Homo sapiens: one gene and its partners. The protein of the gene in region 2 purifies or fractionates together with the protein of the main gene of each other region. This does not show direct contact. Each region holds a gene or a part of one and is shown on either strand. Other genes may lie near its edges. The genes, in order: RGPD8, TSNAX and SMG7.

Region 1 (3,657 bases), on a different chromosome or scaffold from region 2:
CAGGAAAGGGAAAAAAGTAGTAGCTGCAGAGAATTTATTATGTATATAATAATACGTCCAATGCACTTAAACTCTTAATTTTTACACCATCTACACTGTTAGGTAAACAATATTAGCTCCTATCTTAAAATGAGAGAAACGGATGCAGGGAATAACAGCTGGAATTTGAAACACATCTGACTCCAAAAATGTTTTCTTAACACAACTCTGCTGCCTTGACAAGATGGCAGATAGATCCAATGCCGTCTAGTGTAGCTATGTGGCTACCTGATCTCTGCTGAAGAAAACTAAATGACAGCACCATACCCAACACCCTAGAACCTACAAAATGTCCCCTTACAAAACAGACACTTAACAGGAAATTCTTTTTCCAAAGAAATTGTAGTGGTATCAGAAAACAGGTAAATTTTGAAAAGTTTCAAACTTCTCTGTATCAGCCCAGGAATCCGATCAGTTCTAACAAGTGAGGTCAGGGACAGATCTAGCATGTCTGCTTTCTGTTTCTACAAGTGTTTCAATTAAAAATTTCCCAGAAAGACCTAACCATGAGGTCCAAAACTATCTCAATTTTCAAGCTAAATAAAATTTCCCCCATTCATCCATCTACAGTGCCTAGTCCAGATGCTACACATACACATCCAAGAAATAAGAAACTAGTGGAATCACCTAGAAAACTTTATAGTCACTGTTGGTATCCGCACCAGAGCTTTGAATTTGCAATCACTGCTGTAACTGTAATTTTTAACATTCAGTGTGATGAGAACTGGCTTCAATAATTCTCTCATTTTAAAGATAAGAAGCCAAACAGTCACAAAGGAAGTGACTGGCCCAAGATCATTAATTAATGGCAGAGTCAGTACTAGTACCAAGCTTTTCAAGCTCATGGACTAGTGCTCCACTATACTTCCACAGAATACAATGTTGGGAGCCTGAAACCTGTATGTTAAGTCAAAATTGTATGTAATTGTCATAGGCCACGACTACACAGAATTAACATTCAAAATTTTTGTGCAAATTCAAAAATGTCTTCCCCACCAAATAGTATTCTCTTAATTTGCAAATGCTGCTGATCACACTGTAATAATCGCCACACATCAGCATATCCTTGATGTAACTTTAGCAGTATGAGTAATTTAGTTCTTGCTTGATAAACATGAAAGAACCTACTTTTATTTCCAATTCCAAAAAAGTCAAGCTCCTTTGAACCCTATTGTTAAAATAAGATATATATACATAACTATTTCCTTACATAATTAAGTCAAATTCATATGGAAGTATTAAAATATAGTAAGACTTTTTGAAGCTCAGACCACTTTTCGATTCCTAGCTATACATTTGAAACACATGTAATCCACAGCTAATCTGGGAATGAACTCATAGACCAGAGTATGATTAGTACATTGTAGCACTTCAATCACTCGGGAACCTTCTCTGTGTCAGGAACTCTTATATTTTAAATAAAACAGTTTCTACCTTTGAAGGTCTCAAATTTTGTGGAAGATGAGGAGAGAGACACATAAAGTACTTTCAAAAATATGGTAAAGGGCTGGGTGCGGTGGTTTACACCTGTAATCCCAGCACTTTGGGAGGCCAAGGTGGGCAGATCACCTGAGGTCAGAAGTTCAAAACCAGCCTGGCCAACATGGTGAAACTCTGTGTCTACTAAAAATACAAAAATTAGCTGGGCCTGGTGGCGGGTGCCTGTAATCCCAGCTACTCGGGAGGCTGAGGCAGGAGAGTCACTTGAACCTGGGAGGTGGAGGTTGCAGTGAGCCAAGATCACACCATTGCACTCCAGACTGGGCAACAGAGTGAGACTCCATCTCAAAACAAAACAAAACAAAATATGGTAAAGGGTCAAGACCGAGGTATGTAGGCTGGGCACAGTGGCTCACACCTGCAATCCCAGCACTTTGGGAGGCTGAAGCAGGAGGATTGTTTGAGCCAGGAGTTCAAGGCCACCCTGGGCAACATGGCAAAATCCCATCTCTACAAAAAATACAACAATTAGCTGGGCCTGGTGGCATGTGACTGTCTGTAGTCCTGGCTTCGTGGCAGGCTGAGCCAAGAGGCTCTCTTGAGCTAGGAGGTTGAAGCCGCAGTAAGCTGTGATCATACCACTGTACTCCAGCCTGCACAACAGAACAAGACCCTTGTCTTAAAAAAAAAAAAAAAAGACCAAAATGTCCCCTTGCCATACTATTTGGATGGCAAGGGGACATTCTGACCAGCTTCAGAAAAAAAGTGAGAGAGTAGCCAGGGAAGGAATCTTGGAATAAAAAGTACAGCTAGAGAAATTAAGTGACTTACCTTAATGGCCTCTACTTGTTGGCAAATCATATTCAGTAAAGAATTCCGATCTTCTGTCCATCGAGGTGGTGTTTCGGGAGAATACTGAAAAAAAAAATAAAAATAACAAAACAGCATTTAAAACACTTAGAACAGAAACAATTTCACAATGAAATGATTCCATTCTTTCCTGTTTACCTTGTAACTTTTACTTGGTGATAGTGAATATTTGGTAGGAGACGGTGTAGAATGTTTTATTTCTGAATCTGCATTTCGCAAAGAACCATTTTTATAGAGAGGACCTCCTTCACTATAGTCTTCGAGTTCCTGCATGACTGAATTAAGCATCTGTTTTACAGACTCCAGGGGCACAGGCAACTAAAAATAAAAGACATTAATTAAGGGCTTTCATTTGCAAAAAATTCCAAAAGTAAAAACTCTAAAATGATATATTTTATCTTATTTACATTTTTGTCACTTTAATAAGCACTTTACACTTTAAATAATAATACACGTGAAAGTGTTTTTTAATTATCTTTTTTCTTTGTTTTTCTGTTGTTTTGTATTATTATTTTTATTTTTTTGTCTTTATTCTATTTTTTTCTTCAGGAACACAGAAAAGTGTTGTACAGTCTAACATCTTCTGATTCTAAAGTCCATGCTCTTTCTATTACTTCTGTTAACCATGATAATTGTAGAGGAATGTTAACTTGGAAAGCTTTTCCAAGTGAACAAAATAAGTTACTGATGTTTTCTAACTGATTTTCAATGGTGACAGAAATACAGATGCTACAATACACCAGACAACATAAATCCTAATAAAAGAGTAGTAACACAAATTAATCAACAAAACACTCAGAAGACTGAACATAATTTAACATCATCATGACAATCTCAAACAGCTGACAGCAAGAAAACAAGGGCGTTCATAATGGCTGATGACGATGAGAAGAAATGCTCTTAAGTTGTCAGCAACAACTTTCAATTTCAGCAAAGTTCATTAAGAATTAGTCCTGAGGTTATAATATTTGTTTTGATTACACTGCTAAGATAACAAAATCAATGTCTTATCTTAGAAATCTTTTCTAATTCCCCAAGAAGTACTTTTTAAGAGCATATACCTAGATTCCCAAGTTTAAAAAGACACACCAAACCTAAGACAAAGCAAGCAAATCTAAGCATTTAGACACACGCATCCCTTCTGTGCATTAATAACAACATATTACTGAGTATTTTTGAAATTACCAAAATATAAGACCAACGCAAAAACACTGACCAGTGGGTTATCAGTAAGAACGTACATACAACAACCTGCTACTTACTTTCTTGACCACTGAAAGATTTGAATCACCGTCATCTATAATCTTT
Region 2 (3,657 bases):
TAATAAAACAGTACAACAACTGGGAGTCTACATAAAGATTACATTACCTATGGGAAAAATAACCCGCAGAATCTAGAATCTTTTCATAGTAAATTCATGCCTCTAACACATTAAACTGCCTCATGTCCTGCCCTTAGCTCATGAGCCAGGCAGACTATGTCTTCTTGCTAGTCCTGATTCTCTAAGCTTGTACCTTTCTTGATGCCTCTATTTTTGCTACTGCCTCTCATCATCTCACATTTCACTTTCATCATTCAGATATCATTCTGCTCAAGGACTGCTTAAGAATCACGTGCCTCCCTCCTCCCTTACTCTCCATTCCTTACCACGCTTCACTGATTTACATTTATCCTTCGCTAGCTAAAATTATATTATTTATTTGTAAATGCACTTGTTTCACCACTGTATCAGAGCATAGATCCATGTCTAGCAGCAGGTGTTCACAAAACATTTCCTGACTGAACTGCTTGTTGAAATCATAAGCAGTATAACATACTGGATAAGAGCATCTGTTGTAGTTTGAGATAAACGTACTAAGGGTATGCAATCTCCTGGGAACTAAGAAATTGTTGAAAAGGAACTGCAAATCCATGTGCCCAATAAGCACTGCCCCTAACATGGAATAATGTCTTATTATTTTGCTGCTATTACTTTTTCAAATGTATGCTAATGCAGTTGGAATAAAGTATAAATTACTCATAATAGTAATATAAGTTAATTTTATAAAGCACTGTTGAATCTGTCTCATCAGCTTCATTACTGTCATCCAAATCTAAGTTACCTTATTACTTTATTACCTCTAAGTTACCTTACAAATACCTTACTGTACCGGAACTACAAAATAGTCTCTTGTCTGGTCTGCGTCTGCCCACCTTGCCTTTCTGTAGCTGCCAGAGTGACATTTCTAAAATATACTTTAGTTTTTAAGACTCTCTAATGACTCTGCATTACGTTTAACAAACTCCAAACTCTTTATGAAGCCTTACATTACTTGGTCCCTTGCAATACCCCCAAAAAGAACAAATCAACAAACCATCATTTATGTAGTATTCCAGCCAGGGATGCATAACCTGAATCTAACCATGAGAAAATATTAATCAAATCTAAGTTGAGGAATATTCTATTAAATAAGACCTATATTCTTCAATCAATATCATTGTCAAGAAAGACAAAACTGGGAAACTGTTCCAGATCACAGAAAACTAAAAAGAGACATTACAATGTAATATGTGATCCTGTTCTAGATTACTGGACTAGAGAGAAAAAAAGCTGGAAGGAACCTTATTGAGACAATTGTCAAAATATGCACTGTAGATTAAAGTATTATGTCAGTGTTAAATCTCCTGAAATTAGTTAACAATACTAGAGTTATACAACAGAATAGTCTTCTTCCTAGGAAATATATTCTGAAGTATTAACAAGTAAAGGGGTATGATGCATGCAACTTGTTCTTAAATGGTTCAGAATATATGGTTAGACATATAAATTTACATATATAGAGAGAATAATAAAGCAAAAGTGGCAAAATGTTAAAAATTGGTCAATCTAAGTCAAGTCTATACAGAAATTCTCTGTACTATTTTTCCAACTGCATTAAGTCTTCTAGTTTTTTAAATAAATTTGAGATTACCTCAAAATAAATTTAAAAAGAGACAGTATTTCTTTACTCAGATGATTCAACAACAGTAGAATATTGATCTGATAACTCCTTTTAATGCAATTAACTCCAACTTTGATAGCAAAGTGGTTGCTCGGACATTAAAGATCCTGGGTTTGAGTTGAACAAACTATACTATCTCATGAAATTTTGTCTGGAAGCTAGTGCTTCTCATTAAAGACTTTCCGGGCCGGGCGCGATGGCTCACGCCTATAATCCCAGCTCTTTGGGAGGCTGAGGTGGGTGGATCACTTGAGGTCAAGAGTTCAAAACCAGCCTAGCCAATATATAGTGAAACCCCATGTCTACTAAAAATACAAAAATTAGCCGGGCATGGTGGCACAGGCCTGTCGTCCCAGCTACCTGGGAGGCTGAGGCAGGAGAATTGCTTGAACCTGGGAGGCGGAGGCAGGAGAATTGCTTGAACCTGGGAGGCGGAGGTTGCAGTGAGCTGAGACTGCACCACTGCACGCCAGTCTGGGTGACAGAGTGAGAGTCCATCTCAAAAAAAAAAAAAAAAGACTTCCCATGAAATCCCTTTTAAAATCTCCTCTGACAGACCTGTAAGCTTTTATGTCAAACTTTTCCAAAACACTTGGTAAATCTTATGAAAGGAAAAAAAAGGGAAATGATTTTAATTTTCTTAGAATACAAATGGCTAGAAAGCAAAAACAGTCTGTACCTAAAAGTACTGTCTCTATATGTAAGAAAGCAATAATTATTCAGTTTATGAAAATGAAGAGAATAAAATCATCTTATTTCTAAATTACATGGAAATCAAAAAGGCTCAACTAAAATATTTTCCTCTTTAAATATAGGTATGTATTAACTGGGTTTTACTACTTAGTCTCACAATGGGAATACTGTACAAGTTGTAAAAAATGAACTTAGTAAACAAGAGATTATCACAAAATGACACGTAACAAAGAGTTACATAAAGTTTTAAAAATTACTTTAACCACATATATTAATAATATAAACACCTCCAAAAAAAGAAACTTGGACCTTTTTTTTCAAGTTTATTAAAATTTTTTTCCCTGTTGTCTTCCTGCTTTTCCACCTTTACTGGGGTATAACTGACAATTAAAAATTATAAGGCCAGGCATGATTGATTATGCCTGTAACCCCAGCACTTTGGGAGGCCAAGGGGGACAGATCACTTGAGCCCAGGAGTTCGAGACCAGCAGGGGCAACACAGTGAGACCCTGCCTCTACAAAAAAATCTAAAAACTAGCCACGTGTGGTGGCACATGCCTGTAGTCCCAGCTACTTGGGAGGTTGAGGTGGGAGGATCACTTGAGCCCAAGAGGCTACGCTTGCAGTGAGCCAAGATCACGCCACTGCACACTTCAGCCTGGGCCAGGGTGAGGCGTTGTCTCCAAAAAAAAAAAAAAACCAAAACTGTGTGTGTGTGTGTGTGTGTGTGTGTGTGTGTGTGTGTGTGTGTGTGTGTGTGTTATTACCACTATTAAGCTAATTAACGTATCCATCACCTCAGTTAGTTTTTTTTTTTTCCTTTTTGAGTCAGGGTCTCTGTTGCCCAGCCTGGAGTGCAGTGGCCCAATCACAGCTCACTGCAGCCTCAAACTTCTGAGTTGAAGCAGTCCTCCTGCCCCAGCCCCTCCGGAGTAGCCAGGACTATAAGCATACTACAGGCGCATGCTGTCATGCCCAGCTAATTGTGGTAAAAACATTTAAGATCTACTTACTTAGCAAATTTCAAGTATAAACTTCCTGAATTTATCAAGCTCTGTACCTTGAAATACCCTTAAACCACTTAACTCTCTTAATAACGCCTTTATTTCCCAAGTCTTTTCACTCCACAGCCCCGCAAGCTGCCTGGCCTATAGGAAACACCCAATCATGTATATTGCACGAACTGAAAAAACAAGAACTTAAACTATTAACTAAATTAGTAGCTGACATGGATCTAAATATATCTAGTCTTTTATTACTGAGATAATAACTAGGCCAGGGTTAAGATAATCAATATGTATTCA
Region 3 (3,657 bases), about 48 Mb from region 2:
TTTGCTAGAATTAATATGTTCACAGCTATGTGTTAGGAAAATGACTCTGTGTAATGTAGTGGTGGATAACAGAGAAAAGTAAGGTTGTTAGAGCCTGACATTAATTGGGGAGTGACTACTGCTTAGAAAAGGGGAAGACTTCAAAATTGGTCCTTTTTGTAAGGTTCTTTTCCTTACAAAAGATTCCCTTTGGGACTTTGGTCCTGAATAAGGTACTGGCAGTGGATCTAGAAAGTTATGAAAAACAAATTGGCAGAGTGGTGGTACTTTTAATGGGGAAGATCAGTGGACTTTGAGAGGCTTCTTGTTAATGTGCCTTATATTTTATAGCTTGACATGGTAGGGAAGACTTCCTTAGATGTGGAATCAATGATAGTTTGAGATGAACTTAGTTCTTTGAAGAAGGGAGAAAAAAAATGAATACAATGATATTTTTCAGCTAAAATTGAGCAGGCAAAATGGGGGAGGCATAGGTCCTGGGGTCCCTTAAAGATTCCTGGAGCCAGTCTTGTCTCAATCTTAGGCATTTGTCCTAAGTAAATTAAAACAAGTGTTAGAAGTCTGAGACCTAGGTGGTGGTTGTGGGAATCATAAAGGCTTGTGCCAGTCTGAATTTCCCTCCTCCTCTTTTAGATAATCATTCCATTTAAAGTCTGCAGTGGGGACACTAGAGAATGTCTTTAGGGAAGCATTATGTTCACGTTCTTTGAAAATAGAACTGTTGGTTTTTATAGACACTTCAGGGAGGATGCCGAGTATTGCTGAATGGATGTGGTTGGGGGGTGTAGCAATTGTTTTCGTGACCTTGACTTGAAGAATTTTCTTGCCTACCTTTGTCAGTGGTGGAAGATCATGACTGGGCAATTTTTAATCTCTATAGCTACAGATCCTGCCTCATGTAGATGAAAATTAGTTTTGTCTTGGCTGAATTTTAATTTGTTAGAGTAAATGAGCTGGGATGTCTGGCATTGAAATGGTGGGGTGGTGGGAAACCAAGGAGCAAGATGGCTGTTTCAGAAGGGTCAGAAATGAAGATAGGAGGCAAGAAGTCCCAGTAAGACCAATAAAGAGAGAATTCAACATCAAGGGAACTGAATTAGTCTCAAGTTATAAAAATAGAGCAGAGATGAAAGGAAGAAAACCTATCTTCTATGTGGGAAAGATGATGATATTCTGGGCAGGAAAGGATAATGAAATTTTTTGTTTGTTGAAAGGTAAGTATCTTTTTAATACACTGACAAGACTTCTAAGAGAATCAGTTAAGTTGAAAATACTTTGTTATGTTTTATAAAAATAAAAATATGATCTTAAATATGAGGGTTCTAGGCCGAATAACATTGGGAATTTATTACTCAAATTGAAGGAGAATTCAGAGTATTTTCTCTTTTGATTTATGACAGAATGAAAGATTTTAAAAGACTTTGACACCTCTGTTGAGTAAAAGAAAGGGTGTATTGAATACAATTCATTTGATGGGGGTAGGAGAAGGTTAGGATAGGCCGCAGGTGAGGTATAATATTATGCTTTAAAATAATGGCATTTTGAAAAAAAGAAAAGTGGAAATTAACATATCAAAGTTGGAAAAGCAGGAGTGGGGGAAGTATTAAAGTACCAGACAGAGAAGACATCAAAGTTGTTTTGGAAGATGAGAAAGTAGAATAATCATAGCTATAGGGAATACCAGTCAAACAGGTCAAATCCTGTTATAAAAGGTGGCACAGGTGCCACCGAATGACTTCTGCTGCCATTGTGGGAGCCACTGTTCATACTCTATGCTCCCTTCAACTTTCCTCCTTTTCTTCCTTCACTATTCTCTTTTGTCTCTAATTTCTTCCTATGCTGTGAGTGTTTCAGTGAGATCCACTTGAAGTGGATTCCTACTGTTAGACTCCTTTACAGGAAAGGTCCAGAAAGTATCTGTTTTGTTTTGTGTGTGTGTGTGTGTGTGTATGTGTGCATATGTGTATATATACATATATACATGTGTGCATATGTGTATATATGCATATATACACGTGTGTGCATATGTGTATATATGCATATATACATGTGTGTGCATATGTGTATATATGCATATATACGTGTGTGCATATGTGTATATATGCATATATACGTGTGTGCATATGTGTATATATGCATATATACGTGTGTGCATATGTGTATATATGCATATATACGTGTGTGCATATGTGTATATATGCATATATACGTGTGTGCATATGTGTATATATGCATATATACGTGTGTGCATGTGTATATATGCATATATACATGTGTGTGCATATGTGTGCATATATACATGTGTGTATGTGTGTATGTATACATATATGTATATGTGTCTATGCACATATGTGTGTATATATACATATATTTTTTGTATGATACATGTATAGTGAAGACGCTGCATCTCAGTGGCTCACTTGTCAGAAGTTTTGTTACTAATATAACAGCCACAGGGTTGTTTTCTAAGCCAGCAGAAAAATGGTTGTCATTTAAATAGGAAGTAAAATATCCAATATGGTATAAAATAAAAATGTATCACTATAAATCTTGAAACAGAGAGATAGTGGAGATAAGGCTGGATAAAGTAGCAAGCTAAGCCTTATCCTAGCCTGGGGAGAGGAACAGAGAAGATAGTGGGAGCATTGGGAGGAATATATAAATAGGATGGTCTCCAGGTTCTAGAAGAGTCTAGTAATGCTAGATCAGATAGTCACTGTATCCTGAAGCTTCTAGAAGTCTTAGAGCACATGCTGATTTTAGTCCATGTGGTCCACGAAGTCTTCTTCACCTGCCCCATCCCCTTCCTTTCCACCAGGTACATGCTTTACAGAATGTAAAGTAGCTTTTGTCCCGGAATATCAGCCAAAGGTGGTGACATTTTTTGAATGAATGACTGTCTCTTTAGGCTTATAAGTCTTTGTTATAACAGTGTTAATAGCTTATTACCTGCTTGGATATTGTCTGACTAAATTATTTTGGCAGTTAATTTCTGCTTCCCTTGTGGTTTCATTTGGATTCAAAATGTATACTTCCTGTCCTATCTTAGGTTTCATTTCTTTGCTTTCTAACAGCTGTGGTCTTCTGCCTTCATGGTAGAAGAAGCAATTGCTGAGTTTTATGTTGTTGTTTTTAATGGATGTGTTACAGTAAGATCTGGACCCACTAGTATTGCAAGTTTCATGAGGCAGTTTTGAGGTGGAGAGTGGTTCACACTTTAAAAGGGCTGGTGTGTTTTATACTTGAGAAAAATTGTTTCCTGCCTCCGGCTAGCCTTTCAAATTTTTGTATTAGTGTCATGAATGAGTGCCTGAAAGTTTAGATGGGTTAGTTTAATTGATCTTGTGTAGAGAATAAATTATAAAGCATACGTCTTGTAGATAGTGGATTATTCATCTGTTTGTAGGTATATTGGCAGATGGCCATTATATATTGCCATTAAAGTTTTGCAGTCAAGCCATATTTTAGTTTAGTTGCTGTATTGTTATGAATAGACTTATCAGCTGTCTGGGAAATTGTAACTAAGCATTTACAAGGAAATATAAGAGTGGAATTTTGGCAGGTATGTCACATGGTAAGTGACAGCTTGTAACCAGCTCTTTTTTTGTTAGTGTGTAAATGGAGCTGCTTAGGAACATTGTTTTTACTCTCCCTTAG

What was found.
Region 1: the proteins of TSNAX (region 2) and RGPD8 purify together in Homo sapiens (affinity purification with mass spectrometry; 3 studies listed by BioGRID and IntAct, with this or other methods). This does not show direct contact.
Region 3: the proteins of TSNAX (region 2) and SMG7 purify together in Homo sapiens (affinity purification with mass spectrometry; 3 studies listed by BioGRID and IntAct, with this or other methods). This does not show direct contact.

Annotation. Positions count from the first base shown.
Region 1 is NC_000002.12:112,395,612-112,399,268, forward strand, and holds part of RGPD8 (RANBP2-like and GRIP domain-containing protein 8), read right to left. Parts: coding exon 3,612-3,657; intron 2,668-3,611; coding exon 2,488-2,667; intron 2,395-2,487; coding exon 2,311-2,394; intron 1-2,310.
Region 2 is NC_000001.11:231,531,589-231,535,245, reverse strand, and holds part of TSNAX (translin-associated protein X), read right to left. Parts: intron 1-3,657.
Region 3 is NC_000001.11:183,475,471-183,479,127, forward strand, and holds part of SMG7 (nonsense-mediated mRNA decay factor SMG7), read left to right. Parts: intron 1-3,657. UniProt on the Homo sapiens protein: Plays a role in nonsense-mediated mRNA decay. Recruits UPF1 to cytoplasmic mRNA decay bodies.